Linked DNA regions of Homo sapiens. The protein of the gene in region 3 interacts with the protein of the main gene of each other region in a biochemical or structural test. Each region holds a gene or a part of one and is shown on either strand. Other genes may lie near its edges.

What was found.
Region 1: the proteins of MORC2 (region 3) and NAT10 form a complex in vitro, tested with the Homo sapiens proteins (one study listed by BioGRID).
Region 2: of the proteins of MORC2 (region 3) and SENP1, one has a biochemical effect on the other in vitro, tested with the Homo sapiens proteins (one study listed by BioGRID).

Annotation. Positions count from the first base shown.
Region 1 is NC_000011.10:34,133,416-34,143,628, reverse strand, and holds part of NAT10 (RNA cytidine acetyltransferase), read right to left. Parts: intron 9,311-10,213; coding exon 9,209-9,310; intron 9,118-9,208; coding exon 9,043-9,117; intron 8,455-9,042; coding exon 8,338-8,454; intron 6,988-8,337; coding exon 6,854-6,987; intron 6,652-6,853; coding exon 6,603-6,651; intron 4,439-6,602; coding exon 4,342-4,438; intron 4,245-4,341; coding exon 4,134-4,244; intron 3,230-4,133; coding exon 3,057-3,229; intron 2,541-3,056; coding exon 2,421-2,540; intron 1,911-2,420; coding exon 1,812-1,910; intron 1,355-1,811; coding exon 1,281-1,354; intron 185-1,280; coding exon 101-184; intron 1-100. UniProt on the Homo sapiens protein: RNA cytidine acetyltransferase that catalyzes the formation of N(4)-acetylcytidine (ac4C) modification on mRNAs, 18S rRNA and tRNAs.
Region 2 is NC_000012.12:48,066,359-48,076,571, reverse strand, and holds part of SENP1 (sentrin-specific protease 1), read left to right. Parts: intron 1-1,778; coding exon 1,779-1,882; intron 1,883-1,964; coding exon 1,965-2,248; intron 2,249-4,850; coding exon 4,851-4,905; intron 4,906-9,606; coding exon 9,607-9,645; intron 9,646-10,213. UniProt on the Homo sapiens protein: Protease that catalyzes two essential functions in the SUMO pathway.
Region 3 is NC_000022.11:30,937,447-30,947,659, forward strand, and holds part of MORC2 (ATPase MORC2), read right to left. Parts: intron 9,004-10,213; coding exon 8,895-9,003; intron 4,826-8,894; coding exon 4,666-4,825; intron 4,557-4,665; coding exon 4,445-4,556; intron 4,113-4,444; coding exon 3,987-4,112; intron 3,392-3,986; coding exon 3,312-3,391; intron 2,596-3,311; coding exon 2,513-2,595; intron 2,261-2,512; coding exon 2,175-2,260; intron 760-2,174; coding exon 619-759; intron 524-618; coding exon 369-523; intron 266-368; coding exon 137-265; intron 1-136. UniProt on the Homo sapiens protein: Essential for epigenetic silencing by the HUSH (human silencing hub) complex. Recruited by HUSH to target site in heterochromatin, the ATPase activity and homodimerization are critical for HUSH-mediated silencing.

The DNA.
Region 1 (10,213 bases), on a different chromosome or scaffold from region 3:
GCTTTTGCTCCAACCTCCTATTTTCTAGTCAAAGTTAAAGAGAAGCAGAGAGGCCAGAATGCCTCTTCCGCCAGATGCACATCAGACCCTGGGCCCTCACCTTTTCAGGCTGATGATCGAGGCGTTCGGCCCAGCTTTGTTCAAAACTTCATTCCACTCTTCATCGTCCCCACGGATTATGTATCTAAAAAAAAGAAGGGAACTATCAAAGCCTGCTAGAAAGAAGAGGGGACTGCTTAAGAGAAAATAACGACAGTGACAACATTCTTATCAGACACTTCCTGTCATGAAAGCCAGGCTGAGCTGTGTCAGCATTTGAACAGCAGAAAGGACAGAGGGGACAAGCATGCAGGAGGGCCAAGAGACATGGTGCTTAGCTCTATGGATAGAAGCTCCACAGGAGCGAGGGTCACCAGGCCTGCTGGCAGGGGTCAGTGAGGACAGTCCTGCACAGAAGGCAGCCTGCCTGGCTCTTCCCACATGACTCTCATTAACATCCACCAAAGAAGCTTCCTGTCACCCCCACAATCTTCTCACTCACTCCCACCTCCAAGCATTTGTCCACAAGCCCTTGAACTGTGCCTCTCCCCTCCCTCCCTTCTCTTTCAGATTTAGCAGTCCTGGCAAATCAAGGTTTTGATATTGCAAAGCTGAGGGCAAAAACTAGAGCTCGATTCTCTGTCCAAGGACTCCTGGCCACCTCCACCTCACATACCCAGCAGCCACCATCACTAATGACCCAGAAACAGGACTACAGGTCACAGAGGCTCAGAGGCCATGAATTCTGGAGTTATTATTCACATCAATCCAGGCAGTGGAGGGAGAGGCAGCACCACTACAGCTGAAGCACAAAAGGGACTAGGATTCCCAGACGGTTTTAGAGCAAGGGGTGTTTTGCTTGTTTGGTTGGTTTTAGCAGTAGAATCCTTTCTTCAAACAAAGTCACACGTAAAAGCCAAATAGAGTAAGTAACCATTAAAGGGCCTGCTCATCCAATCGGCACCCCCACTCCTGGAAGGACCCGAGGTGTGACCTGGAGCCTTGGGGATCAGAGAGTGCAATGTGTAAGTCAAAGTGGCGGCACTAGTCTCCGGAACCCAACTCTTCCAAAATTATACAAACAGGCAATTAGAAGGTCAAATAGAACTGTTAGCATCCCTAAAACTGATCCCATGAAAGACACTTTCCAGGGCACGTGGGATATGATTAGAAGAAACGTGTAGGCAGATTCTTAGGGCCCCAGAAGCCAAGGCAAACCCTCTGCTTCCCACAAGCCTTACTCAGAGAGGTCCATGCTCTTCAGCTTCCCTACTTCCTTCTTGTGTTTCTCCTGAAATTCCTTTGCTGCTTCATCCTGTGGTTAAGGACCCATAAAGAGACTAAGTCAGAGTCAAGGATTGAACCAAACACAGGAAAAGGTGAAGCTGGGGTGGAATGGCACAATGATGAGAAAACATTTCCTTCTCTTCCATCTACCTGCAAAAACCTTGTAGGCAGCTTTGATTATTTTAAGGTAGCTCTGTTATAAACTATGCATTTAAGAAGTCACCAAAAAAGACAAAACATTTCCAACAGATGCTGGAATCCTACATTCACAACACACACACACAATCAGTGGGAGGCACAACTCTAGGCCTGTGTGTGCTCAGACAATGCTGGGTCCGTTTGTCCAATTAAACCTACAGAATAGCACTTAGCTCAATTAGTGCAGAGGACTCTTTCTAAAGGGGAAGGGGAAGACAGTCTGAATTCACAGCCTAAGGCAACTGATGGAAATGCTGGGACTCCCGAGGCCATGAGCAGGGACATACTAGGTCGTCACTGAGGGTCTTCATCGTGGGCTCCATGACCACATCCTTCGCTGCCACCATCTGCTCCTCAATGGCCTTTTCCTGAACTTCATTAAATAGCTACAAAAGACAACCAACAGAGAAGCAGAAGATGAAGGAGCAGCAGGGACCCAGTCACCCGTGACCCAGACACTTGGTGTCTTATAGAAAGGTGTGCATTTTGAAGACACAAAGCAACACTCTACAGTTTAGGAATGTGGATATTAGCGGGAAGAGCTGAAGAACACAGACTGGATATGTACCAAATTCCTAATAGGGATGCCTCTGGGAGAGGACACAGAACTTCACAGATTCTTTAGAGCTGAAGTCCTGTATTTGCGCGCGCACGTGTGTGTGTGTGTGTGTGTGTGTGTGTGTGTGTGTGTGTGTGATGTGTGATGAGATGCAGCAAACACAGCTAAATGCTAACATGTGTTCTGAAGTCCTGGATTTGTGTGTGTGTGTGTGTGTGTGTGTGACGAGATGCAGCAAACACAGCTAAATGCTAACATGTGTTCATCTCGGGAGCAGGGAGTGGGTTTGTTGCACTATTTGAGAGACATCAAGCCCCTGCCCTCAGGCTGAGGTTACCTTCACAACTTTGCGGATGATCCGGTTGAAAAGTCCCATCAACTGGCCCGAGGGCAGCTCAATCTCCTTTTCCAGCTGGTCCACAGACTTATGCTGCAGGCCAATCCCCAAGAGAAGAGCCTAAAGGATGGAAAATCTGCTGGGTGGGCCTCTAGGACACGCCCTTGCCCATTAAAATGGCGCCAAGAACCAGAGTACTCTCTTGACCAAAGCTATTGGTACAAAGGTAGACTAGCACTGTGTATATTGGCATCTTCTCTTTCATCCTGTTACTGAGACCACCAAGAAATGCTGTCTTCCTAAAATCCCCAAAGTAACTTTTATCCTGACAAATACCTGCTTCACAACTACATTAAAAGTTTGGGATGTTCCTGAACCTCTGCTAAGGTGGAGTTAAGTGTCAAGGCAACGTAGTGGGGTGGAAGCTGCAGCTCTCTCACTTTGTATGGCTGGACACATTACTCGACTTCAGAGCCCAGGTTTCCTGACCTGTAGAATGAGGATGCCACTACCCACCTATCAGATGTATGAGGAATTAAAGGCACACAATTATGTCCAAGTGCCCAACCCAACACCCAGCAAATGAACAGCTCCACAATCCTCGCTTCTCCTCCACGCAAGCAACAGATAGCATACCGACTGAGCCGCAGACAGGGCCAGGTCCCCCAGCTGGTTCAGGAAATAGATGCGAGAGATGGCCGGGATCATGTCCATGATGAGGTGATAGTCCACCATATTCCGTGAATACATCTCCAGCCGCTTCAGGTCATAGGGGAGGAAGAGTGCTTCCAGCTCCTCCCGGCTCAGGGCTGTCCATGGGATAGAGAGCTAGACAGGTTAGGTCACCCGGCGCCCTCATGAGATAGCACACAGCCCCCAGGCGGCACCCTAACACACAGGAGCATCTAACAGGGCCTGGCAGCCATACCACACAGCCCTGGCCCAGAGGGGCACCAAACCTGCTCCTGCCATAGAAGGGGCGGCTCCAGGCCACGTGTGGGGAGGGGACGGCTGCCACAGGACCCTTGCTCAGTTCCCATACTGAACACATGGACCAAGGAAAAGCTCCCTGTGGCCCAGGGTTAGGGGAACACAACTACACTCTTTCCCTGCTTTGTCACTTCATTTGGTGTCACAGAAAGTGTGTAAGCTCTGCCCAGCTCAAGATATACGGATTTCTCCATCAAAATATAATTGGCAAAAAAGTATATACACACACATATACACATATATGCATGCTATACCTAAATATTTATATATAAAATATGCAATAAAACTAATCTCTTACACATTTTTTGTTTTTTAAGTATTCAAACAATCTGTATGCACAAAGCACTTCTGTGTGCTGTTGGCTACAGAAGGCTAGCAGCATATTCTTATTACAATTTCATGAATCAGGAAACTAAACCTCAGAGATGGAGCACCTCACTCCCCTAGAGCACAGATGTAAATCGGCCTCCATAACCAACCAGCTACATGAACTAAATGGACACCTCTGACATTAAATTGCACAGCCAGAGTCTTACCATGAAAATGAAAGACAGCACAGCCTGGGACAGAGCAGGGGCCTGGCAAGCGGGTGGTGACCAGCGAGTGACTGCAGGCTAGAACCAGTCCCTCAATTTCCAGCCCAAACCCTTCCTAGGACACCACACCCACCTCCCACACAGCCAAGCCATTCCCAACCCTCCTCCCTGTCCCCACCCGGCTCACCAGGCTGGGCTGGCTTCCCCATGTTCCTGTTCTGAATGATGTTCAGAGCCAGGGAAGGAGAGAAGGTACTGAACTGGTAGGAGAGCAAGGCTAGGAACCGCCGTCGGAAATCTGTGGGGTGCCATCACGCAGAGTTAGAGGTCTGGAGGCATCCCCGGCAGCCCCCAATCACCTCATTGTCTCCCCCAAACCCCTACTCCTCAGTCACCTTTCCAGAAGGCTGCAAGCCAGCCTCCCTGGTCAGCCTCATCCTCATCAGTGAGCGTCTTCAGCATGATGCACGAGTGCTCTCCGGTCAGGTCATTCTGGGCAACACAGAGGTTTAACTGGCACCAAGAACCCCCTTTTTTTGAATAACCCATCATTGATGAAGGGTAAACACTCAGAGAAGAAAGGCTTAGTGCTTCCGCAGGCCTCTCCTTCTTTCCAGGCTGGGGGTAGGCGCCCTTCTCAAACAGCCCTCGCCTTCACCTTCCTCATATCACCTCAGTTCACACACAACAGCTGCAAAGATCACTGTCCTGCAATCTCCTCAAAAGTGTCACAGACACAGAGAAGAGCTGCTGGCTCTTCTGGGCCTGCCTCTTGCTCGGGACGTGCGGGAGGGAAATATGTGCTCCTCTCAGGTAGATGCTGAACTCAGTCATTAGGGCTTAAGCGCCACACAATCCAGTCAACATGGGTTTGATGCCTCACAGCAGGAACTCCAGGGCCAAAACCTACACCTCAGTGCTGGCAGCCAGTCTGCAAGTGCAGGCTTCTTTAGGTGTTAAAATTGTGACTATTTTTACATTTTTTACTCCATAACAACAAAGCCCCACACCATAAAAACACCACCAAGTCACAAATGAACAGTGCACAGTGCAAGACCACACGGACACACCGCAGACCACACCACAGCTCACTAGCTTGCGTTCTCCTTGCAGCTGACAGCCAAACTTACATCCTCAGCCTCCACCAAATGTACTGACAGAGACTCAACCCATCTCTGCAGCTCCCTGCCTGCACGGAAGCAGCCCAACACCCAGCAGTCCTCACCAGTCCCACTTTAAACCCTCGGACGGACACTGGACACTAGCCTCTGATACTGACTTTGCCCTCTCCAAAATCAAACCTCCAACACTTCCCTCTCAGCCGATGGACTCCCCTCATCTGGGAAGACAGAAGCACTCAGAAGACAATGTCTTCATCCTCCCAACCCCAGATCAGCCAGCCAACTGATGCCTTCCATTCCCACGCTCTCTGCCTTCCCTGTTCCGAAGGATGAAGTAGGTGGTCACCTCTCTTCCTGAATCTCGAGTCCCACCCACCACCTCCTCAAGGCCTGCACTCTGGCAGTCAGCCCCCCTCACCCATACCACTAATTGCAGGATCGAACCCAGCAGCAAAAAACATTCTCTAGAATCTCCCATCGGACAATCCTTCTTTAGCGCCCATCTCCCTCCAGCGACCTTGTTTCTCTGCTCCCTTTCGCTTCCTGAAAGAGTCGCCTGTTCCCCTTCTAGTTCTTCACCTCCTCTTCCCTCTGGCCAGGCCAAAGCCTCCACTCCACTGCAGCTGCTTCAATGCAGCTCACCGCTGCTGACAAATCCAATGGCCAGCTGTCCTCATCCTCCTCATCCTCTCAACAGGGCTGACTCCCATTCCCACTTTTTCACCTTGACGTGTGACACCACACCCGACTTTCTCTTGCGCATCAGGGCTGTTCCTTCTCAGTCTTGTATGTGCTGTGTCCTCCTCTTCATTCCTCTAAACGTTAGGGTCCAAGGAGTCACTCTCACATCCTTTCATTGGCTCCAGATATTTTTCATTCACTCAACAAAAGTATTTACTGAACACAAACTACACAGCAATTGCTACTCTAAGTGCGAGGAATACAGCAATGAACACAACAGACAAGAGCTCCGTGCCCTCCTGCAGTGCATTCTATTATGAATATGCTGATGGCTCCCAAAGCTCCATCTCTAGCCCCAAACTTCCCTACCTCCAAATTCCTGTAGTCAAATGAATGCCTAGTCCACATTTCCACTTGGATGTCCAATAGGCATCTCATATTAACATCAAAAAAGAACTCCCACTCTTCCCTCCAAATCTGCTCCTCCTGCAGTGAGTCCCATCTCCGACAGCACCTCCAACACCCAGTTTCTCAAGCCAAAACTCTAGGAATTACCCTTGATCCTCCTGTCCACTCTCCTTTCCCAGAATCTGATGAACAAGTCCACGTGTACCTCTGCCATTTTATGACTAAGCTCAACGCATGCACCGTGTAGTCGGAGAAGAAATGTGTGATGATGTGGCCTGTCACTGAGGATGGCTGTTTCCATGTCCATCAGAATAAACCTCTTCAGAGGCACAGCCACCTGCTCAGAGCGATGCAGCAGGGAGGCACTAGGGCTCTTTGCAAGGACAGGCCTGTCACCTACCATAACGGTAAACCTAAACTTCTCCTCTGCTGGATGCCTCACTCACCGGGGTCTGTCTCAGATAAACAGGAACAAATCCAGCTCGTTTCCAGAACCTGCAAAGATACAAAGACAGTAGGTCACTGTGTGTGGCCTCTGGGGAGTGGCTGATAGACACACAAGGGCAAGAGCCAGGAAGAGCACGCCACAAATAGCAGGCTAGCACCGATACCAGCTACCAACAGAGACACACAGCCCACAGAACTCTTCTTTCTCAATGCCAAGGAGTGATGCCGTGGAAGGAGGGCAGGCACTTACTTGAGGAGCCTGGGGGTCAAGCCATAGGAAACACCCAGGTAATCCAGGCGTTCGGCAGGCCTCTCATTCAATTTGAGGAGTAAAGGAGGCAGGTCCTTCCGGGGAGTGATGACCTCTTCCAACAAGCTGACAGCCTGGGAAGATGCCAAGGAGAGAACACAGTCCATTCAGCAGAGGGAGAGAGACATCGTCAAGCACCCTGCCGCAGCGCACTCTGGACTTAGCACAACAAAAACTGGGAGAGGTTTCTTGGTTTATTGCTGTGGTTTTCAAACTATGAGAACACCGGAGTCAAGCAATCATTCTCAAAACACCTCAACATGCATAGAATCACACTGCTTCAGACCTCTAGAATGCAGGAAGACAGCCAAAGAGTTTAGAAACGACTGACAGAGGCCGGGAGTGGTGGCTCATGCCTGTAATCCCAGCACTTTGGGAGACTGAGGCGGGTGGATCACCTGAGGTCAGGAGTTTGAGACCAGCCTAGCCAACATGGCAAAACCCCATCGCTACTGGAAATACAAAAATTAGCTAGGCACGGTGGTGTGTGCTTGTAGTCCCAGCTACTCAGGTGGCTGAGGCAGGAAAATTGCTTGAACCTGGGAGGCAGAGGTTGCAGTGAGCTGAGATCACGCCATTACACTCCAGCCTGGGAGACAGAGCAAGACTCCATCTCAAAAAAAAAAAAAAATGCCCAACAGATTTACAAAGGGACAGGCAGGCTCCTGTGATCCAGCATGAAGTCCAGGTTCTATCACCTGACAGCCTTAGGAAGTGACAAACCTCTGAGCTTGAACTTTTTTTTTCATTGCTTGAGACAGGGTCTGGCTCTGTCACCCAGGCCAGAGTCCAGTGGCGAGATCACAGCTCACTGCAGCCTCAACCTTGGGGTTCAAGCAATCTTCCCACCTCAGCATCCCAAGTAGCTGGGACTACAGGCGTGCACCACCATGCTCGGCTAATTTTTGTATTTTTTGTAGAGATGGAGTTTCGCCATGTTGCCCAGCTGCCTCAACTTAAATAAAAGCCCCTTGTCTAGCTCTCAAATATACATACTATGAAAATCAATGAATGCACATGAAAGGCTGTCACAGTTACTAGTATTAGTCATTCTTATCAAGGAATGACAGAACTTCCCTTAGTCTGGTGTAGGATGAAAGAGATTATAGAGCAGTGATTCTCAAACTTGAATGAGCATCAGAATCACCTGAGAATCTTGTTAAACTACAGATTACAGGGTCTACCCCAGAGTTTCTGATTCAGTAGGTCTGGAGTGGGGCTCAAGAATTTACATTTTTAACAAGCTGCCAGATGATCCCAATGATACTGATCTGAGGATCTAAAGTGTTCGGTAGGAGAAAGCAGCAGAAGAAAATGAGAGAGGGGTCCAAAGCTCTGGACTGGTTTTTGTTGATGCCCCTAAAAACCCAGAGAATTATCCTCCCAAGAACCAGGACACAGGAGGTCTGTCGAAAGATGCTTACCTCGCTGCTTACGGTGTGAATTTCCTGTGGTGTCTCAAGGACCTTTTCCTCCAGACAAGGAAACCTGCCTTCATAGTACATCTGCAGCAGCTGCAGAGCACGGCTGCCATAGCCCATCTAGGAGCAAACGTGAAGGGGAAGAGGCCGAGGGAAGAGAGCTGCTCTCAGTCTAAGCCACAGTGACTCCCCTGCATTGCTTCTAGAGAACCTTCCCTCCCTGTCAAACAGCACGGGGCAAGAGAACCAATGAAAACCCTGAGTGAGGTCAAAGCAGAGACACTTAAGACTGAAAGTAGTGTGACCCGAGTTCTTAACACTGGTCTAGCTCATCAAGAACAGCCACTTGAGGGTAAGGATGGCTGTGCTTTCTGGTCTCCAGATGGGCAAGCCCAAATGAGAGGCAGTTTCTGTACCATTGCCTGAAAAGGAAGTTTCTACAGCCAATTACTCAGTGAGGTGTTCTAAGAAGGTAATTTTGTTATGCAGGTCTGGTTCACAAGTCCTCGTTCTCACAAAGGAAGAGTGAGCATATGCCATCATCCTGTCCACCCACCCACCCCGAACCCTGGCTCAATTCTCCAGAGCAGGGAAGTGCCTACACTTCACTTGCTTCTGCTTGACCAGCTTCTTATTCCAGCCACCAAGTACCCCCACCCTAAAGCACCGCCAGCAACACGGCTTCAGGGGAGCCTGAGGACACATTACCCCTTGATAATCTGGGTGAACAGCAATGCGAACGACCCTTCCACCAGACAGACCACCAAAGTCTGGATCTTGGAACTGTGTGGGAGACACAAACCAGTAACTTAGCAACACAGACATCTTTGGACACCACCAGCTTCCCTCAGACACACCAGGGAAAGCCCGTCACCTGTTCTGACACTGTCCATGGAATCAGGTCCCCTGAAGCCTTCTTGCCTCGAGACAGACTGTTCAAGATGGACTGGCGAGAAATCTCCCCTTCAAGGCACACCTGTGGGGGAAGCAGGACAGTGCAGGCAGAAAGGCCAACTCTGATACAGAGCCCACTCACAGAATATAGCTTGTTTCTCGAACTAGGCCAGTTGTTTCCACCCCCATGTTCAGGTTTAACCCTGACACTGACACATCCATTCCCCCCGCTCTTTTGAGATGGAGTCTCACTCTGTCGCCCAGGCTGGAGTGCAGTGGTGCTATCTCGGCTCACTGCAAGCTCTGCCTCCTGGGTTCATGCCATTTTCCTGCCTCAGCCTCCCGAGTAGCTGGGACTACAGGTGCCTACCACCACACCCGGCTTATTTTTTGTATTTTTTTTTTTTTTTTTAGTAGAGAAGGGGTTTCACCGTGTTAGCCAGGATGGTCTTGATCTTCTGACCTTGTGATCCGCCCGCCTCGGCCTCCCAAAGTGCTGGGATTACAGGCGTGAGCCATGGCGCCTGGCCTGACACATCCATTCTTAACAGGAGCTTAATTACCAGGCCCCATGTTACAGGGCAGAAGACTGACAGCCTCCTGACCCAAAAAGTAAAAGCCACATTAGAAGAGAGTCTCTATGTATGCTGTGCGTGTGTGAAGGCCATCAAGACACAGGATGCTCATGAGGCTCTGTACAGAACAGCACAAGTTCAAAATAACTAAAATGTCTAACAGGTGAATGGTTGAACAAATCATGGTACATGTATATAATGAAATACTACACAGCTTTAAAACTTATGTAGATTATGAGTGTTTTATACACTGCCTAAAAATAAAAGCAGATTACTATGTATATGAAAAGGAAAAGTGATATAGAAATGCATAAATACATCCATGCTAGGCATTAAAAATTTGTTCCCCAATCTGTAGCCTCTAATTCAAAATGCACCATGTATTGCTTTTGTAATAAAGGGAGAAAACA
Region 2 (10,213 bases), on a different chromosome or scaffold from region 3:
TCACTTGAGGTTAGGAGTTCGAGACCAGCCTGGCCAACATGGTGAAACCCTGTCTGTACTAAAAATTAAAAAAAAAAAAATTAGCTCTGTGTGGTGGCGTGCACCTGTAGTCCCAGCTAGTCCAGAGGCTGAGGCAGGAGAATCACTTGAACCTAGGAGGTGGAGGTTGCAGTGAGCCGATATGGCGCACCTGCACTCCAGCCTGGGCTGGTCAGGAGATCGAGACTATCCTGGCTAACATGGTGAAACCCCATCTCTACTAAAAACACAAAAAATTAGCTGGGCGTGGTGGCGGGCGCCTGTAGTCCCAGCACATATCGAAATATCACAGTACGAGATGGTGCTAACACTGACATAATGTTTAAAATTATGTTTTGAGGATTGGTGGTTGTATTAAACTGTATATAAGATTAAAAATAAATTGCCAGGGCATATTACTAAGTGCTAGTGAACATAGCCCATTGAGTCAGGGGACCTGTATAGAACTGATGCTTTACCAGAGTTGTAAGTCCTTATGTAATCTGGTTCTGTGTCAGGTGATCTCATTTCTTCCTACTCTTCTGATTCACATGGACCTTACTATTTTTGGAACGCATTAAGCACCTTCCTCTCTCAGGGCTTTGCATGTGTTGTTCCTCTATTTGGAATATTCTTTTATATATTTCTAGGACTGACTTCTTCCCTTGGCTTTAGGTTTCTGCTGAAATATCACTTTTTTTTAGAGAAATCTTACCTGTTCCTGCTGCTCTCCTTCCATCACTTTCCATTCTCTTACCCTTTAATTTTCTGCATACTACCTGACTGGTTTTTTGTTTGATTCCTTTCACTGCAATATAATCTCCACAAGGGCAGGAACTTTATTTTATTTGATGCATTCATTATCTTTAGTGACTGGAGCATAGTAGGTGTTCATGTCAATGAATGAATGTTAGGAAGTATATGGTTTTCACTAAATGTAGTATTGGGTCTTACAGGAAAAATAAATACATGTTGGAGATGAATATTGTCTCTGGAAAGTACCTGCACTTAAATAAAATAGGAAACTGTTGGCAAGATACTCCACTCTGATTTTGACTAGTCTGGTTACTTCCTTGTGATTTTTCTAACAGGTTTCAGGAGTCAAGGGATTTGTTGGAATCCTAATTTAGAGGCCCTTTTTTTCTGGGACTCTTTTTTGACTCAGAAGTGATTACCTGCTGGCTTTCTGGTTTTATAGCCTATAGTTCCTCTGCACTATTATTTAAATATATGTTCCATAATTTTTCAAAGTATATTATCTGGTATTTACTCAACCTGTCTTTTACACACTTGATAATTTTTGTTTTGTTTTGTTTTGTTTTGTTTTGTTTTGTTTTTTGAGACAGAGTCTTGCTCTGCCCCCAGGCTGGAGTGTAGTGGCACCATCTTGGCTCACTGCAACCTTCGCCTTCCAGGTTCAAGTGATTATCCTGCCTCAGTCTCCCCAGTAGCTGGGACCACAGGCATGTGCCACTACAGCCAGTTGGTTTTTTTTTTTAAGTTTTCTTTTGTAGAGTTGGGGTCTCACTATGTTGACTGGGCTGGTTTTGAACTTCTAGCCTCAAATGATCCTCCCCGCTTGTCCTCCCAAAGTGCTGGAATTACAGGCATGAGCCACTGTGTTAGGCCCATAATTCTTAATTATCTTAAGGATTCTGCCTGAGCTTTGGCAGAGCTAGGATTCTGTTTACATGCTAGTTTGAGAAATACTTGCCTTATTGGATGTGTTTAAACTGTTTTTTTTTTTTGTTTTCTTATAGACAGTTCAAGAAGAAGAAAGAGAGATTTACAGACAGCTGCTACAGATGGTCACAGGGAAACAGTTTACTATAGCCAAACCCACCACACATTTTCCTTTACACCTGTGAGTCACAGAAGCATATTTCAGATGAATTTAATTCTACAATTTATTACTTGATATTGAAACAATATTCTTCTCTTGCTAGGTCTCGATGTCTTAGTTCCAGTAAAAATACTTTGAAAGACTCACTGTTTAAAAATGGAAACTCTTGTGCATCTCAGATCATTGGCTCTGATACTTCATCATCTGGATCTGCCAGCATTTTAACTAACCAGGAACAGCTGTCCCACAGTGTATATTCCCTATCTTCTTATACCCCAGATGTTGCATTTGGATCCAAAGATTCTGGTACTCTTCATCATCCCCATCATCACCACTCTGTTCCACATCAGCCAGATAACTTAGCAGCTTCAAATACACAATCTGAAGGTAAACATGGTATCATATAACTACATTTTTAGTCCTAATAGCCAATTAACTGTTCATTAGCTCATTACAGGCAACATTGTAATATACATATAAATAAATGAGCATACCGAATCTGAAAATATGAAGTCCGAAATGTTCCAAAATCTGAAACTTTTTGAATACCAACATGATACTCAGGAAATGCTCAGTGGAGCATTTGGGATTTTGGATGTTTGGATTTGGGATGCTCAAATTGTATAATGCAAATATTCAAAAGTCCAAAAAATCCAAAATTTGAAACTCCTGGTCCCAACCATTTTGGATAAGGGATACTGAACTTGTAAGACATGTACTTACATACTTTAAATACATATGATTCAGTTAACCATGCTGTGAGTAAACTAAATCCACAAATAGGATATTCTTTTTTTCTTACCTCAAGATGCAAATGATTTGATACATTTTATTTAAACAACTTCCTAAGTACAGGCTAGAGTCAAAGTATATATACTCAGCCCAATTGCTTCAGCACTTTCTCTGTTTCTATGACTTTACAGTGGTAAGTAAGAATTCTGAAGTTGTAGGAGTTTTGAAACATCAGATAAATACTGAAGCTTAAGTACTTAGGTTTGTGCGTTTTAGAATGATTGTCAGCATTGGAAGCAAAAAGTTTTCTACGTAACTTTCAACTAACTGAAATATTCACTCTCTTTGCATTCCAGTTAATTAAGGTTTTGTCGTGATAGGTTTGTTTCCTTAATTTCCCCCTTCTTTAGGTATGTATTATGTATCAATTTATGGTATGTACTTAGGTATGCAACTTAAAACAAGTTATAGGTTAAATGGTTAAACATCAGGGATTTTTTGATAGATGGAGCACTAGTCTTTCCCCTCCTTTCTCAGGTTGTTTGAGGTTTTTTTTTTAATCTATTTGTACTTTGTGAAAATTCTCACTCAGGATTAAACTTTTTGGTAGCATCATTGTATAGCTACACATATCCATGAAGACTCTTGTTATATTTTGTGAGGTGATGTACTGAGAACTGTAAAGGAAAAAAAAAAGCCAAAAAACCCAAACTCCTTTAACCTCAGAAACATACATTGTGTTGCAGATACTTAGATACAACTAAGTTGAAACAAATATACTACATTGCACTGTTTAATTACTTTCCTTGTACCATGTAATAAATACTCTGAGGTTCTAATGACAGCACTTTAGAAGAACATGATTCCTGCCTTTGAGTAGTATTCAACAGAGAAAATACATAATAGAATGATAAAATTTGTACTTTTTAGACACCTCCTGGGGTGCTATTTCCTTCCCTGTCCCCCTTCCCTCCTTCTTCCAGTTTCTTTCCCTCTTCCATTCCCCCACCCCTTCTTTCACCTAATTCAGTCGCATTGTAGATCATGAACTACAGTAGTTCCCCCTTATCTGTGGGGGGAGGATATGTTCCAAGACCCGCCCCCCACCAGTGGATGCTTGAAACCATGGAGAGTATACTATATATACCATACCCTATATACATCATGTTTTTTCCTATACATACATACTAATGATTATAAATTAGGTGCAGTAAGAGATCAACAATAATAACTAATAACAAAAATTATAACAATATACTGTAATGAAGATGTTACTTTTTTCTTATTAAATCAAAAACTTTAACCTTTTCACTTAAAGGAAGTAGTGTTTTTTGTTTTTGTTTTTGTTTTTGTTTGTTTTTGAGACTGAGTGTCACTCTGTTGCTCAGGCTGGAGTACAGTGGGACCATCTTGGTTCACTGCAACCTCGCATGTCCTGGGTTCAAGCGATTCTGCTGCCTCAGCCTCCTGAGTAGCTGGGATTACAGGTGTGAGCCATTATGCCCAGCTAATTTTTGTATTCTTAGCAGAGACAGGTTTCACCATGTTGGCCAGGCTGGGGAAGCACTTTTTACGGCTTCTCTTTGGCATACCTGAATTGCCAACATCATTACTTTTGCCTTTTGGGGACATTATTAAGTAAGGGTTACTGAACACAAGCACTGCTATACTGAGACAGTCAATTGGATGACTGAGGTGACTACTAAATGACAGGTGGTGCATACAACATGGATATGCTGGACAAAGGGATGATTTCATGCCTGAAATAGAGCTGGATAGAGATTTTTATCACATTACTTGGAATGGCATGCAATTTAAAATTTACTAATTATTTCTGGAATTTTCCATTTAATATATTTGGACCGCAGTTAACTATGCGTAACTGAAACCATAGAAACCAAAATTGCAGATAGAGGACTACCATGAAGACTTTTAAGGAATCCTGCCATGTTCTTGTTCTCCTGAAACAGACAGGAAGCACAGGGAGCAAGTGCAGCCTAGGAGGAAATTCTGAAGGGCAAATATGTTTGTTATTTCCCAGGGATTTTCTTATTTGTGAAGCAAATTCTTCACTAAGACCTATTTCTGTTCTCAGTGACAATGGACTTGCCTCTCTCTCTCTCCCATCTAACCTTTGTTCTTATGTTATTTTTGTGGAAATAAAATATAGCAAAGTATGGGAACTTAAACTAAGATATCTAGAAAGTATAACTTTGTGGAGTTTTATTACTAATGAAATGCTCTTGTGTTTCTTTAGGATCAGACTCTGTGATTTTACTGAAAGTGAAAGATTCCCAGACTCCAACTCCCAGGTAAACTTTGGAAAAAGCTTGTTCTTTATTAATTAATTAATATATCTTTTTGAGACGGAGTCTCGCTCTGTTGCCCAGGCTGGAGTGTAGTGGCGCGATCTTGGTTCACTGCAACCTCCACCTCCCTGGTTCAAGCAATTCTTCTGCCTCAGCCTCCCGAGTAGCTAGGATTACAGGCGCCCGCCACCACGCCCAGCTAATTTTTGTATTTTTAGTAGAGATGGGGTTTTGCTGTGTTGGCCAGGCTGGTCTCGAACTCCTGACCTCAAGTGATCCACCTGCCTCGGCCTCCCAAAGTGCTGGGATTACAGGCGTGAGCCACCATGCCTGGCCTAAAAGTTTCTTCTTAACATATTGTTTTCCCTTTCTTTAATCACAGCTTTTTCACTAAAAGTTACATAATGTAAAACTACCTCAATTCAGACCTTTCTCACGTATTACTTGAATTATTTTAGTGGCTTTATAATTGTTCTTCCTTCAGCCTCTATTTTGTTCTTCATTCCGTCTTCCACCATACCATGTTCTTGAAACAATTTTTCTGCCTTGCTCTTTTTTCATTTGTTTTTGTTTTTGTTTTTGTTTTGAGACAGGGTCTTGCTCTGTCACCCAGGCAAGAGTGCAGTGGCACAATCATGGCTCACTGGAGCTTTGAACTCCTGGGCTCAAGTGATCCTCTTGCCTCAGCTGGGACCACATATGCATGCCACCATACTTGGCTAACTTTTAAATTTTTCTTTTGTAGAGACGGGATCTTGCTATGTTGACCAGGCTGGTTTTGTACTCCTAGCCTCAAGCGATCCTCCTAACTTGGCCTTCCAAAGTGCTGGGATCGTAGGTGTGAGCCACTGCACCCGGCCTGCTGTGTTCTTTAGTCCATCTTCCATGCTGCAATCAGAGTGATCTTTCAGAATTCATGTCTGATCATTCATTAAAGGGGTTTAATGATTATTTGTTAACCTCCTTCAAGGGTGGTTTATCAGACATTGAATTAAGCTCAGGCTCCTTACTATGGTATACAAAGCACTTCTTTCACAAGCCTCACTTTCTCACTTTTAACAAATATTTACTGAGAGCCTACTGTGTGCCAGGTACTAGTATAAATATTGAGGATAATAGGGAACAATGTGAAGTCCCTATTCTCAAGGAGCTTGCATTCTACTTGAGGGGAAGGATGAAGGACAATGTGAAGTCCCTATGCTCAAGGAGCTTGCATTCTACTTGAGGGGAAGGATAAACAAATGTATATGCCTTGTGATAAGTGCTATGAAGAAAATTGAAGCAGGGTAATATATAGAGTAGGATTGGGAGGATACTATTTGTATAGGGTGGTCATGGAAAGTCTCTGATAAAGTGACTTGAGCAGAGACATGATGGAGGTAAGAGGGAGCCATATGGAAATATGGGACTCTTTCATGTGTTTTTATAAGCTGGACTATTTTCAGTTTGCAAATACAATAAGCATTTCTTACCTTCACATTCAGTGTTCTTTTTGCCTGGAATGTCCTCCGTACCTCAACTTTGTCTGTCAGTAGTGTTTTATCTTTTAGGTCTCAACTCACATGTGAACTTCTGCATGAAACTTTACTTATCTGGAGGTATCAAATACTTCTTCCTCTGTAATACAGTAATAGTAATCCATAGTAACCATTACTATGATTGCTATGCCTTTGCCATATATGGCTTTGGGAATTCAATTGCTAGGATGAGAATAATATCAGTTTTCCGTTGAGAAGATTAAGAGTAATGAAATATTCTTTCTCATCTCAGTTCCCCTACTTCTTTGCAGCTCCCCATATGTTCTAAGCTTTAAATATTTCTTAAAATTCTCTATTTGTTAAGTCTTTTGGGGAGACTTCATAGTTTGGATTCTTTATTTCTTACATCTTTTTTGGAGTCAGATCTGCCTTCTGATCTTGGGTTGGAAAAGGCTTCATGTAGCTTTGGACAAGTTACTCTTATGAACCTCAGTTTCCTTATCAATAAAATGCCAGTATTGATACCTTACACTTAATTGTGAAGATTAACTTACAGATAAAACACTTATTTTTATAAGTGCTTCACATGAAATGCCACAAGATGCATGCAACTTTCTTGGGAAGAAGTTGATCTCTCAGGTAAAGAGTTGATCTCAGTTCCTTAATGGTTCTTTACTAAGACTGCCTTTCCTTTACGGAGGATTTCCCCTAGTGATGACTAAAGAATGAGATGGCAGGAGAAATGGTCTGTTGGGTAAGGCTGTTTGAGCAATGCTCTTTGTCAAAGTTGGTGCCTACTCTGCTGAGGCTTGGTTTATTGGCTCTCTACTCTTAATTCTCCACTACTGCCTCTCAGTTAAGTTCCAGTAATGAAGATCTGCTTTTATTTCCCAGAATATGCTATGCTGTGTCATACCTCTTTGCCTTTATACATTCTGATCCTTCTGTCTGGATGTCCCTTTCTCTCTCTGTCTACTTGGTAAGCTCTTATTTTGCTTCCTTTTCTTTCTTTCTTTTTTTTTTTTTTTTTTTTTTTTTTGTGACAGAGTCTTGCTCTATCATCCAGGCTGGAGTGCAGTGGCACAATCTCTGCTCACTGCAACCTCCGCCTCCCGGGTTCAAGTGATTCTCGTGCCTTACCCTCCAGGGTAGCTGGGATTACAGGCATATGCCACCACACCCAGCTAATTTTTGTATTTTTAGTGGAGATTGGGTTTCACCATGTTGGCCAAGCTGGTCTCGAACTCCTGACCTCCGGTGTTCCACCCACCTCAGCCTCCCAAAGTGCTGGGATTACAGGCATGAGCCACTGTGCCTGGCCTTAATTTTGCTTTTCAAAATCTCATCCAGGTGTTATTTTTTTTTTCTCAGAAGATTTCTTTGACTTTGCCAGATAATGTTAGTTTTTCCCTCCATCCTTCTACCTTGTTTGTTACTAATACTTTTGTATCTGTCACCCATTGCTGGTCATAGTGCTTGGCATATGATGGGTGCTCAGTAAATAAATCTTTGTTAAACAAATGAATTTCCTAGATAGCCTGAAGTGCTCTCTTGAGTAGCCCAAGTACTTATTCCTCCCCCGCTTTTTTTTAATGCTTTCATCTATTGAAAGGCACAGTCGAAAGAACACAGTCTTTGGAATTGGACAGATAAGATTTCTAATCCTAGCCTTTCAAGAGAAATTATCTTTTTGAACCTCCTTTTTCATTTCTGTACAGTATGAGTAATAATTCTTTTTTATATATTATGTTGAGGTTTAAATAGTATAGGGATTTTCATTAGGCTTAACTAATACATAAAACATCTAGAGCAGAGTTTTACATGTAGAGCACTAAGTATGTGCTCAAAAACATTTGCAGTTATTATTACTATATGCCTCAATTATATGAGAAATAATGCATCTCTTTGGAAAAGCAGATTTTCCCTGCATTTTGTTTTCCGGAGCCAGTGGATACCTTGATCCATTGAAGAAAACTGCTTGTCCCTACATTACTTGTTTATTCAAGAAATACTATATGGCTGGGCATGGTGGCTCATGCCTGTAATCCTAGCACTTTGGGAAGGCCAAGGTGGATGGATCACCGGAGGTCATGAGTTCGAGACCAGCCTGGCCAACATGGTGAAACCTCGTCTCTACTAAAATAAAAATAAAAAAAAGAAAAAATTAGCCAGGTGTGGTGGCGGGTGCCTGTAATCCCAGCTACTCAGGAGGCTGAGGCAGGAGAATCTCTTGAACCCGAGAGGTGGAGGTTGCAGTGAGCCGAGATTGTGCCACTGTACTCCAGCCTGGGCAACAGAGTGAGAGTCAAAAAACAAACAAACAACACTAAATGCCTACTCTGTGCCAAGCACTATTCTAGTTGCAGATCATTTTTTTTTTTTTAAGAGACAGAATCTCACTATGTTGCCCAGGCTGGTCTTGAACTCTTGGCTCAAGCGATTCTCCCACCTCAGCGTCCTAAAGCACTGGGATTACAGGAATGAGCCACCATGCCTGGCCTCTGATCCAGGTCTCTTAACTCCCAATTTGATGCTCTGTTTACTTGTTCTCTATATTTAATAGTTTTCTTTGGAAAAGTGTTCACTCTTCTTCTTTGTGTTTCTGTGATAGATCCTGCCTAGTTAGGAGTTTGGAGATAAGGAAGTTTGAGAAAAACAAGAGGCTCTAGGACAATTAATCATGTCTGTGGCTCTGCTCAGCATATCACTTGGGTTGTCAGCAGAGCCACATGGACCTAGAATTGGCCTGTCATCTTTGGAAGGAAGTTGTGTTGCTGATTCTCTGCTTTGGCTCATTGGCTTGTTAGCCATTTGATGTAGATTATTTTGTGTGTGGGGATTTTTAATAAATCTTTCAATCTGAGTCATTTGGGAAGAGCAATGTTCTAGCTTAATGTATTATTTTGAGAAGTGATGTCCTCTTTCACGTAATGTTGGTCTCATGCAAGTAGGGAGCTATGCCAAATGTAGTATCTCTGCTGAACTTTGGGTCACCTTTTTAACTAATATGTATCCATATGATTTTAACTAATATGTATGCATAAGGATTGTGTCTCCTTAATTCCTAGTTACAATTATTTTATGTCATTTAGATTCCTTTTACTTATTCCATACTTGTAAAGCACTCATATAAACAATTTAAATGATTGTTTTTATTGATGAAAATATTTTAATTTTCTCATAAGCCTCCTGCTCATTTGTCAAATTTTTCTTTTCCTACCCATAGTTCTACTTTCTTCCAGGCAGAGCTGTGGATCAAAGAATTGTAAGTTATTTTTGGTATCATTTTTCCTTCTCAATCAGTTCATTTTTAGTTAGAAGAAATCAAACAATTAGCTAATCATCCTGCTTATTTTTTGCCAATAAGAAGTACCTGTTTAGGCTGGGCGCGGTGGCTCACGCCTGTAATTCCAGCATTTTGGGAGGCTGAGGCAGGTGGATCATCTGAGGTCAGGAGTTCAAGACCAGCCTGGCCTTCATGGTGAAACCTCATCTCTACTAAAAATACAAAAATTGGCTGGGCATGGTGGCACGCGCCTGTAATCCTAGCTACTTGGAAGGCTGAGGCGGGAGGATTGCTTGAACCTGGGAGGTGGAGGTTGCAGTGAGCCGAGATCACGCCACTGCACTCCAGCCTGGGCAACAGAGTAAGACTCCATCTCAAAAAAAAAAAAAAAGAAGTGCCTGTTTATACTTTTAAGTTGTTGGGTTTTCAAAATATTGTTGGAGTTGGAACATTTCTATACTTATGTTTATTAAATCTATAACAATTGTTGAAGCTAAATTAAATTGGAAAAATAGAGTTAGCTATTATATAATAGGGAAAATAAATG
Region 3 (10,213 bases):
CGTCAAACAGACTTGGATCCCTAGGGGACTGTAAGTCCATGAATGTCAGTCAAGTTAGGAGGCTGGCAGGAAGATAGAGAAAAGAGGCTTGTGGGCTGATGGAAATGAGTCGGGGGGGTCCAACCACCCAACTCACCGCACTGGATGGTGGTGGGGATTTCCATAGCTCTCCGGCGTTTGTAACGCAGCTCACTGGATGGGGGCTGGTTCCAGTTGGCAGAGAGGTAGCCAAACTCATCCCAGAACTTGATGATTCCCCTCTGGGCTGGAAAGCAAACACCGATACATCATGTTAGGAGCCAGCCTCTCTCTCTCCCTACATTCAGGTGAAGAGAAAAGGCAGAGGCCCAGCAGCCCAGCCCCATTACCGATGGCAATATCCTTCCAATACTGCGCCAGGTGCTCCCCCATTGCTCGGAGCAGGTGCCGGTACTCCTTGGCATCAGCAAAGTCCTGTTTGTTGTGTGTAGGCTCCAGGACCAGGTAGGGCACATCAACAACCCCAACAACCCCGCCACATGCCCTACAGGGAGAAAGAGAACAAGCTCTGTCACCCCACTGGCAACGCCCTCCTGCCAACTATCCTGGGCTAGACAGCTCTCTGTGGGTAGTACTCACATGCCCCCTTCCAGCTGTGGGCCCACTTTCTCATACATTTTGATCAGTCGGCTACAGTTGTAGATGAACATGCCATCCAGATCCCGGTGTTCAATGTTGACACCAAAAACAAAATTCAGTTCCTTAGGTTCTTTAAGTGCTCTAAGAAGACAAAAAAACTCAAGCAGATCTACACATCGGCACACAAGCACCATAGTGTTTAAGATGTGTTAAGCTTAAGCTTAAACTTGAAACATGTTAAGCCAAAAGTTTTGTATCTCTATTTGATGTGTAACCTGTTAGACTTGATATGGACATGCACTGGGCACCAACTCAAAGCATCCCTAATTAAAAACATGAGTGTGGCTTTTTGGCAACAGGGATGGTTGCCAAACCATTCATATTCATTAAATATGAATTGTTTATTACGAAGCTGCTGCAAATCTGTGCAAAGACAATTATATGTTGGAATAAACACCAGGTTATCGTCATACCTTCCCCAAAATTCCACTAGTATGATAGTAAATTATTATAATTTTTTTTTGAGACATAGTCTTGCTCTGTCGCCCAGGCTGGAGTGCAGTGGTGCGATCTCCGCTCACTGCAATCTCCGCACCCTGCATTCACACCATTCTCCTGCCTCAGCCTCCCAAGTAGCTGGGACTACAGGTGCCCGCCACCATGCCCGGCTAATTTTTTGTATTTTTAGTAGAGACAGGGTTTCACTGTGTTAGCCAGGATGGTCTCGATCTCCTGACCTCGTGATCCACCCACCTCAGCCTCCCAAAGTGCTGGGATTACAGGCGTGAGCCACCGTGCCCGGCCAATTATTATTATTTTAAAAGGCAAAAATTCACAAGAATAATAAGCATGTGCAATAAGACACCATCATGTGATTACTATCAACAAAAACTTAGAGCTGAAAAGCAGATGGATGAGGAGTGGACTGACTTGGAGAGAAAAAACCTGAAACCCATGCCTGTGCCAAGGAGGCCAACAAGAGGCAAAACAGTGAATCAAGCCACAGAGTCCAAAGAGGATCCAGACATGGAGGTGGGACAAGCAGGAAACTTAATGATCCAGGACAAATGCTGGTTCTAAATGCAAAAGTATACAACACTCAATCTCCAGCATTATTCTACATACATAACCACTGAGGAGAAAATGAATATGAAAAAATATATATGTAACATAAAAAATAGGGTCGTATCACCAGGTGGTAGAAGTATAAGGGAGTTTAAAAATGTTACTCCTTAAACATTTTATATTTTTCAAGTTTCATACAATGAGCATTTTATACATCCTTTAAATGAAAAGAAAGAAAGAAAAAGGGAAGAAAAGGTAAGACAGTGCCAAAGGATGGTTTTGGTGCTCGAGCCGAGGTTGTCAGCCCTGCCCTGTCTTTATGACTCAAAAAAGGGCTGAGAGCTAGGATTAAGACTTCCCTCCTGCAGGAGGCATTTGACAAGCATTTGGCATTAAAACAAAGCAGTCTTGGTGACAGAATAGCAACCTGTCAATAATCAGTCCAAAAGCTACGTCAGTTTAAAAGATCCAAGGACAGGCCTGGCACTCACCGCTGCTTGGCCTCCTTGATCCTCTTCTTGACATCGGCTTCTCTGCGCAGAGTGATGGCTCTGTTCTGGACCTGTCGCAACATCACCTGCACACATTGACATCAGGTGAGGGGAGGTGGCACTCTAGGCCACAGCAGGGAATATTGAAACATTACATCTAAGACATCTCAATTTATCTCAAAGATGTAAAACCACACCTGGAAATTTACTTCTTTCTACAGAAAACAGCCCTCACTGGGGACAAACTCAAAAGCTGTGTTTTACTTGACCAGGCTCATGGGACATGGGCTCCTAGTGCCAGAAACGCTGGAGAACAGCCGCCTGGGCCGGGACCTTACCCTGGAGTCCCGCGTGAGGTCTCCACCTAGGCGTACTTCTAATGTCCGAGCTTTGCTCTCTGCCTCCCGCGCCTTCTCTTCAGCTGAAACCCAGAAGAGAACATGGTAAGAAATGCAAAGGTTCAAAACTCTTGGTCATCCCTCCTGGATCCACAGTACTGGACACGAAGTGTGTACACCACCAAGGAAAAAAAGAGTAGGGGGAGCTATGGCTGGTGAGCAATGTGAGGGCAGCCTCTGTGCCTGGACGGCAGTCAGTCACAGAAGGAAAATCTGGCATTCAAACCTATCACGGAGGCCCCAAGGAAACTTTACAAATGAACCAGAACAGGTTTAAAAAAAAAAAAAAAACACCTAAGGCAACCAGTTGAACACTCAGCTTGAGCTGGAAGCTAAAGAAGTCTTCAGCCAATCACTCTCCAACAAGCAGCCGAGAAACCCTGAGAAACCCTGAACAGCGAGAGAGCCCCTGAGATGTTTGCCCTGAAGTCAGGAAAAGCAATTTCACAAGTATTTGCACCAGAGAACTCAGTGGGATTCTTCAATTGGGATAAGCCAAAGAGCTGACACTTTTAGGCCCTATAAATGGCAGAAGAAGAGAAAGTGGAGTGTAGAAAGAAGAAATGCTGAGGGAGTTGGCATGTAGTGAAAGGGGCTGCAAAGGAACTGAACTATGCTTCAGGAGACCAGCCTTGTCCCTGAGTTGTGGACTCAGCCTTTTCCTGGAACCCCACTTTGCCCACAAGCAGCATACCCCAGATGCACACCCCCCCAACTCCTGCACCCAGAGTGGCATTACCAATCCTTGCTACGTGCTCTGCTTTCTTCACCTCCTGCTCCGCACGGGTCTTGAAACGGCTTGACGTGTACTTGTACATCCTGATCAGTAGAAAAAGCAAGCTGATGGCCCACGCAGCAGTGGGGCAGGTGGCACACCCAAGCACAGGAAGCACCCTGCCTTCCTGCCTCCTCCCAAGCTGTGCTGTCCTGGCCCCTCATGATGAGACAAATCCAAGCTCAATTCAGCAAAAAGGTGCAGTTCCTTATTCCACTTGCCCTTAGCCTCCTGCTGTCTTTGATAAGCAACCTCACCATTCACCAGGGTTGTCATTCATCCCACAGCAGAAACAAACCTCAGGAGTAAGCCAAGCCCACTGCTTTCCTATATAGTGTCTAAAGGCCCCTTGGCCCTAAAGCCAAGAGACTCAGACAGCTCACTGAGCCAGGCAGGGCACCCTCCCTGTCACAGAGGCACACATACTCAATGAGCTTAGCCAGCCACCTCCACAGCTGATCTGTCCCTCCTCTAGGACCCAGAACTGACCCTGTGACCAATCACAGGCAACTTAAAGTCCCAAACGTAGTCAGCACTGCCAGAGCCTCTTATACAGCATCCCTCTAACAATGCCCCAGAGAAACGCGGCCACATCCTCGACCCATGGGAGACAGCAGGCCAAGGGGCACTGGCCCCTACCTGGGCTTGTACAGGCAGCAGGAGAGCCTCTTGGTCTGCACCTTGTGCCCATGGATGAAGATCCTCATCCGGGGATCAATATAGAGCACAGCGGCATAGGCACGGAACGAGCGCCGCTCTGGCTTCCTGGAGAGGGCAAAAACAGAGAAGTGCTGTCACCTGCTCCACAACAGGCCTGACCAAGGGCACAACATCCTCTCTGCAGGCTCTCCACCTTTCCATGTTAGGTACTGACTTCTGCTGCTGCCCTGAACTGGTGCTCCCTTAGTGTGAGCACCACATCCCGCCCCTCTCACGTCCTCAGCACAGGCACCCCACAGGCAACTGAGCTGGCCCTACATACTACCCTACCACAGAACACTGGGCAATGAATGTGCTCTCCCCTCTTTCCCTGAAGCCATCTCCTGAGAGCACAAACGCCAGTTCCAGGGCCTCCCTCCCTTCCCAGCCACACTCACGTGCCCTCTGGGGACGTCTCTGCCATCTGGATATCTCTTGGATTTGAGATTATGTCTAGTTCTGGCTCTCCATTATCCATGAGTTTGAGATTGAAGATGATCACCAATGTTCCTGAGAAACAGAAATCTTTTGTCCTGCCAGATCCCCCGGCCCACCCCCACACTACTTGTGATTCTGGAGCTCCCAGATTCTAGGGGCTACAGGCTCAAAGCCTACTTACCGCTGTCCCCAGGAATCTTCATAAACTGGGTCATCACTTCCTCCTCAGTGCGGAATGGAGAGTACTTATAGATGAGTTCTGTCTCAATGGCAAATTTCTCTACATTGTCTGTGACAGGTTCCCGGGTCCGAGCATTCCAGGTGGGCAGTGGGACTATCACCTGTGGAGTAAACATGAGCAGGCACTTTAAGGGAAGCCCCAGAACAGCCTTCCTCCCAAATGTGCATCTCTCTTGTCCCTCCCCACAGCAGCTCCACACTGCCCTGTAGGTGAGGCCCAAGCTCCACAGCCTGGCACCAGAGGCTCTGTGAGCTTCAGGGCTTCTGCCTCTTCCCAAGACTCAGCCACACAAGACTACTTCCTTCAGGAGATGTTGGTTTATGTGCTTAGGGTCTCTGCATGAGAAGTTCCCTGCTTGGGACGTCCCTGGTCATTTTCTTAATTTGGTAAAAATTCTACTCTTACCACTAGGGAAAATATATTTGCAATTATCTAGTGAATCAGTAAATACACATAACATAACCTAAAACTCAGCAATTCCACTCCTAGGTACATACCCTAGGAGAAACTTTTGTACATATGTACCAGTAAACATGTACAAAAATAACCCAGGCCTGGTGCAGTGGCTCATGTCTGTAATCCCAGCACTTTGGGAGGCTGAGGTGGATGGACTGCCTGAGCTCAGGAGTTTGAGACCAGTCTGGGCAACATGGTGAATCCCGGTCTCCACTAAAATACAAAAAATTAGCCGGGCGTGGCAGCGTGCGTCTGTAGCCCCAGCTACTCAGGAGGCTGAGACAGGAGAATTGCTTGAATCTGGGAGGCGGAGGTTGCAGTGAGCTGAGATCGTGCCACTGCACTCCAGCCTGGGCAACAGAGCAAGACTCCATCTCAAAAATAAATAAATAAATAAAAATAACCCAAATATCCATTCTAGAGTGGCCAAATTAAACTGTACAATGGAACACTATATAGTGATACAAATGAACTAACCACTACTAGCATCAACATGGATGAACAACATAAACACAGTGTTATATGAAATAGGATACAAAAAATACCTACAGTAAGAGTCCATTTCTAAAAAATTCACAAATAGGCAAAACTAAACTATTATTTAAAAATGCATACAAGGGTGACAAACTATAGTGAAAAAGAAGGAAATCATTATCACAAAAGTTACCTGAAGGCAGTTCCTTCGGGGGCACAAGAAGAAATATGACTGATGAGGGCACACAGGACACTTCTAACATCAGTCTGTGATGGTGGCAACACAGGTGTTGCCTTTAAAATTGTCCTCTGAACTGCATAAATATTTCAATACACTCTTCCATTTATGTGAAATTTAATTTAAATAATGTCTAAGTGATGTTTTAAAAAAATCCTACTCTTTCTTCAAAAACCCAACCTCATATGCCACTTCCCCAGAGGCTCCTCCCTCGGTGGTTATGAGGCCGCAGCCCTTGCAGAGCCCTGCAGATGGCTGCCTGAAGGATTTCCTCTGCAGAGCAGGCCAGGCTAAGCACCTCAGGGGTTCAAACCCTTAGGAAAAAGGGACTCTGTAATCTTAACAAGTGCTGGGGTGACAAACTGTTAAGAGTTCTGAGACATTTTGCTGGGTTTTTTTATTTTATTTTTTTTGAGACGGAGTCTTGCTCTTGTTGCCCAGGCTGGAGTGCGATGGCATGATCTCAGCTCAATGCAACCTCCACCAATGGCACGATCTCGGCTCACTGCAACCTCCGCCTCCTGGGTTCAAGTGATTCTCCTGCCTCAGCCTCTCAAGTAGCTGGGACTAGGCGTACACTGCCATGCCCAGCTAATTTTTCTATTTTTAGTAGAGACGGGGTTTCACCATATTGGTCAGGATGGTCTTGACCACATGATCTGCCCGCCTCAGCCTCCCAAAGTGCTGGGATTATAGGCGTGAGCCACCAGGCCCGGCCCATTTTGCTGGTTTCTAAGAAGCTTTGTGCTGCAACTATTCAACCCAAGGGCTGGTCTGGACACATTCCTCCTCAACTGAAAATGATCTTATTTTGAAATCTTGGCTGAGTTTGCACTAGAGTACAATCCAAAATAGCGACCTTCTAGCACCAAGTAAGGAAAAAATCTCAACCTAGCCTCTCCACCACGGGAACCGAGTTCCATTTGTGTTCTATAAACCTGTACCTCACTACGCCTCCCATTCTTCACAGCCATCCCAGGTGACAATGGCATCACTTTAAACATTGGCTTTCACTCCCATGGGCACCCCATCCCTCCCCTCAGGAACACTTCTCCTTTAGTTCAATGGTACACTTGCCCAGTTTTCTTCCTACCTTTCTGGCTACCCCTTTGTCCCTCTGGCCCCCTTCTCCTCTCCCCGACCTTTAGATATTGACATGCTCTAGGTCCCAGATCCTCTTCTCACTCTATTCTCTCCATTAGGTGACCTCGTTTGCTACCAAGAATGCTGAAGCCCCCAGACTTCCCCCAAATGCCAGACCCAGACTGCACTTTGCATGTCCAGAAGAAACTTACACTCTTCCCCTCCATACTTCCCCTCTTCATTCTTCCCAATTCCAGAGACCCCACTCCCCAACTGCCACAGCAGAACCTATGAGTCATCCATGACTCCCCTGCTTCGCTTTCGCCTTCTACTAATCAATCAATCACCAAATCTGTGGGTCCCACATCCTAAAGAGATGGAAACTCCATGTATTTCTCTCACCTCCCTTGGGCGAGTACCGCCAAGCTACAGAGCCTGGGCCTCTCAACTGGAACACTCCAACACTCACCCTAACCTTTCCAACCCAATCACCACACAATCGCTACATGGACCTTCTTAAAAGAATCTGATACTGGCACATCCTTGCTTAATAAAGCCCCACACATTCATCAAGGCCCCGAGGTCAAGCCTAACCTGGCCCTCTCTGATCTCCAAAGGCCACCACCTTTCTCCAGGTGGCCCTGCAGCCAAGTCCCCTCCCACAGCCCTCAGGGCCTTAAGCAGGCTGCTTCTACTGACTTCCATACCCTCCTGTCACCATCCTCAGTCCTGTATCAGGAAACATTCCTGAAAACCCCAACCCAGGCTATATTTTCCTATCCTACTTCTCCTAGAAGCCTGCTCTTTCCAGCTGCCACGCTTCTCTCACTCAAGTATGCAGAATGAACTCACATACCACACCAAAAAGGCAGACAAACCCACTGGCTTGCTACGTAATGACGGAAGGCCTACCATTCCCTACCTGAACAAGTTTGCTATGATTAAGGCTCAGATCTAAACAGAACCAGAACAAATTTAATCACAGCTAATCAACACAGATGAATTAAATTGTAAGTCTGAATTCAATTACCTGCTTCTGTGGAAGTTGCGGATTTCTTTCCACAGAACCTCTTAGCCCCCCTTCTTTCAAGCCCTGGCCTCCATGTCTTACATAGGAAAGGAGATAAGAGTCCAGTCTGAGGCTGGGTAGTCCACAGAGCTGCCCTGATCTCCCACAATGAGGGGGCATAGACCTCACCAGAAACAGCTCTGCAGACATCTGAGCCACAAGGAGAATCGGCCAAATGTGTGTTTAGCTTACATAGTCAATTACTAAAATGATTTAAACTCAGAATATTCTGGATTCATTAGTCCTTCCTTCCAGCATAGCAGTAATCACTGGGGCTGTGTAGCAGCCACTCCCAAGACGAGACCCACAGCATCAGCTCTGTTTTCCTGTTCTCCATACACTCACCTGCTTTACTACCTGCCCAGGCTCTCTCTAGGTATCTGAGTCATAGTTTCTGACATAGAGTAACACATTTCTTCAAAAGGAAAATGAGCTCATAGCACATTCCACAAAATCACCACCAAATAGGAAACACCATGATCAGGGAAGCCCAAAATACTCCCCCTGATAAAACAATGTTCCATGGTAACACTCCCCCCAAAATGGAATTCAAGTGGCAGATCTAGAGGAGCTGCAAATCCAACTCTTAATTCCTGCCACTTGACAGTCTCATTCTCGGAAACAGTTGTTCTCTGAAGTGCTCTGAGATTTTGCTTCCTCTCACATTAAAGTTATCTACCTTAACCCCTCAACCAATTCATCCAGCCAGCTAACTGCATAACAATTAGGGGGAATGTGCTCCAATCCTGCAACCCCAAAGAGTCTAGCATTGCAAATAACCTACGAAAACCGCCTGGGCAGACTCAGGAAATGAGGACTGGTGATGCAGACCACGATGATGGGACCTACTTCATCAATGCCTTCTTCCTCATGAAACGTGCGAGACAGGAAGAGGCAGGTCATGGTGTCTTCCTTCTTGGTGAACAGGATAAAATCCTTCCCAATGCGCATTGAGCCCCTGAAAAGGAAACAGAAATGGGTGTTATTCTCCCAGGAGTCAAAAGCTCATCTGCAAAAGAAATCAATCCACTCTGGACATGATTGAAAGTGCCACTGGAGGGCTCTCCTAAAGGCCCCCCCAGGTCCCAGGACTGTGTGCTGAGTTCCACAGCCCTCGTTCCCTCTCCATCCCCCAACACTCCTTCCTCTGCTTTTCCACAGGCCTGTAACTCCTTAGTCTTTACTTACAACGTTCTCAACCACACCATACAGGGTTCTCTCACCACCCTTCTAGGGCGGGCTCACGGCAGACCACCAGCCCCAGGTTAGTCTCACTCCCCCCACAACGCTGAAGAGTAACCCTGCTGTCTTTGAGCTCTTGGTTCATCCCAGACGCATGAGAGGTGCTGTGCCCTCTGACTGTACCACCATCAGACTTTAGTAGCTGGTACCCTCAACACGTCATCTTCCATGCTGACCACCCCCAGTTCCCACCGTGTCCTTCCTCAGCTGACACAAACTCCCCTCCATTGACGAAACGGCAGCAGCACTGTTAAGTGAAAAGCCCAGTGCCTATACTCACAAGCCCGAGAAAACATCAGTATGAACCCAAGGCGCAGTAATACAGAGGGGCTAATAAAATATAATTCTTGACCACAGGATTCAAGGATGCCTGTAATTAGCTCATGTCCAATAACTGGAGCTATCTCCTGTCCCAGAAGTGTTTTGCCACCTCAAGCTCATTATGACACAGGCAGCTCCCTGCTTTTGGATGCAACTGGTTTCTGGGAACTGTGCCTTGAGGCTGATTTCCAAAAGGCAAAAGTCTGAATGGATTCAACTGCTTCCTTCCTCTGTTTGGCCACATTAAGCTGGCTAAGAAGCAGGCAGGGACAGGCCTTTCCAGGCAACGCAGGGCAGGGCAGAAGTGTGAAGCACCAGCAGGGGGACCGCCCTCTGAACAATGGGGCTGTTCAGCTCCTTTCTTCCAGCAGCTTCTGGAGCTTTATGGCTATTATCTCATTAGTCTTTATAACACCCCAGGGAGATGATGGAGGTGGAAAGCCTCATTACTCTCTTCTGTGTACCAATACAAACCAGACTGGCATGCCAAGCACACAAATGAATGTCATGCCCCATTTCCCCAAACACTCAGGAAAACTCCCAGGACACTATTCAAAGATACCCTGGGGGCTGCCAAGTCCTCGTTCTCCTCCTCCAGTACCCAA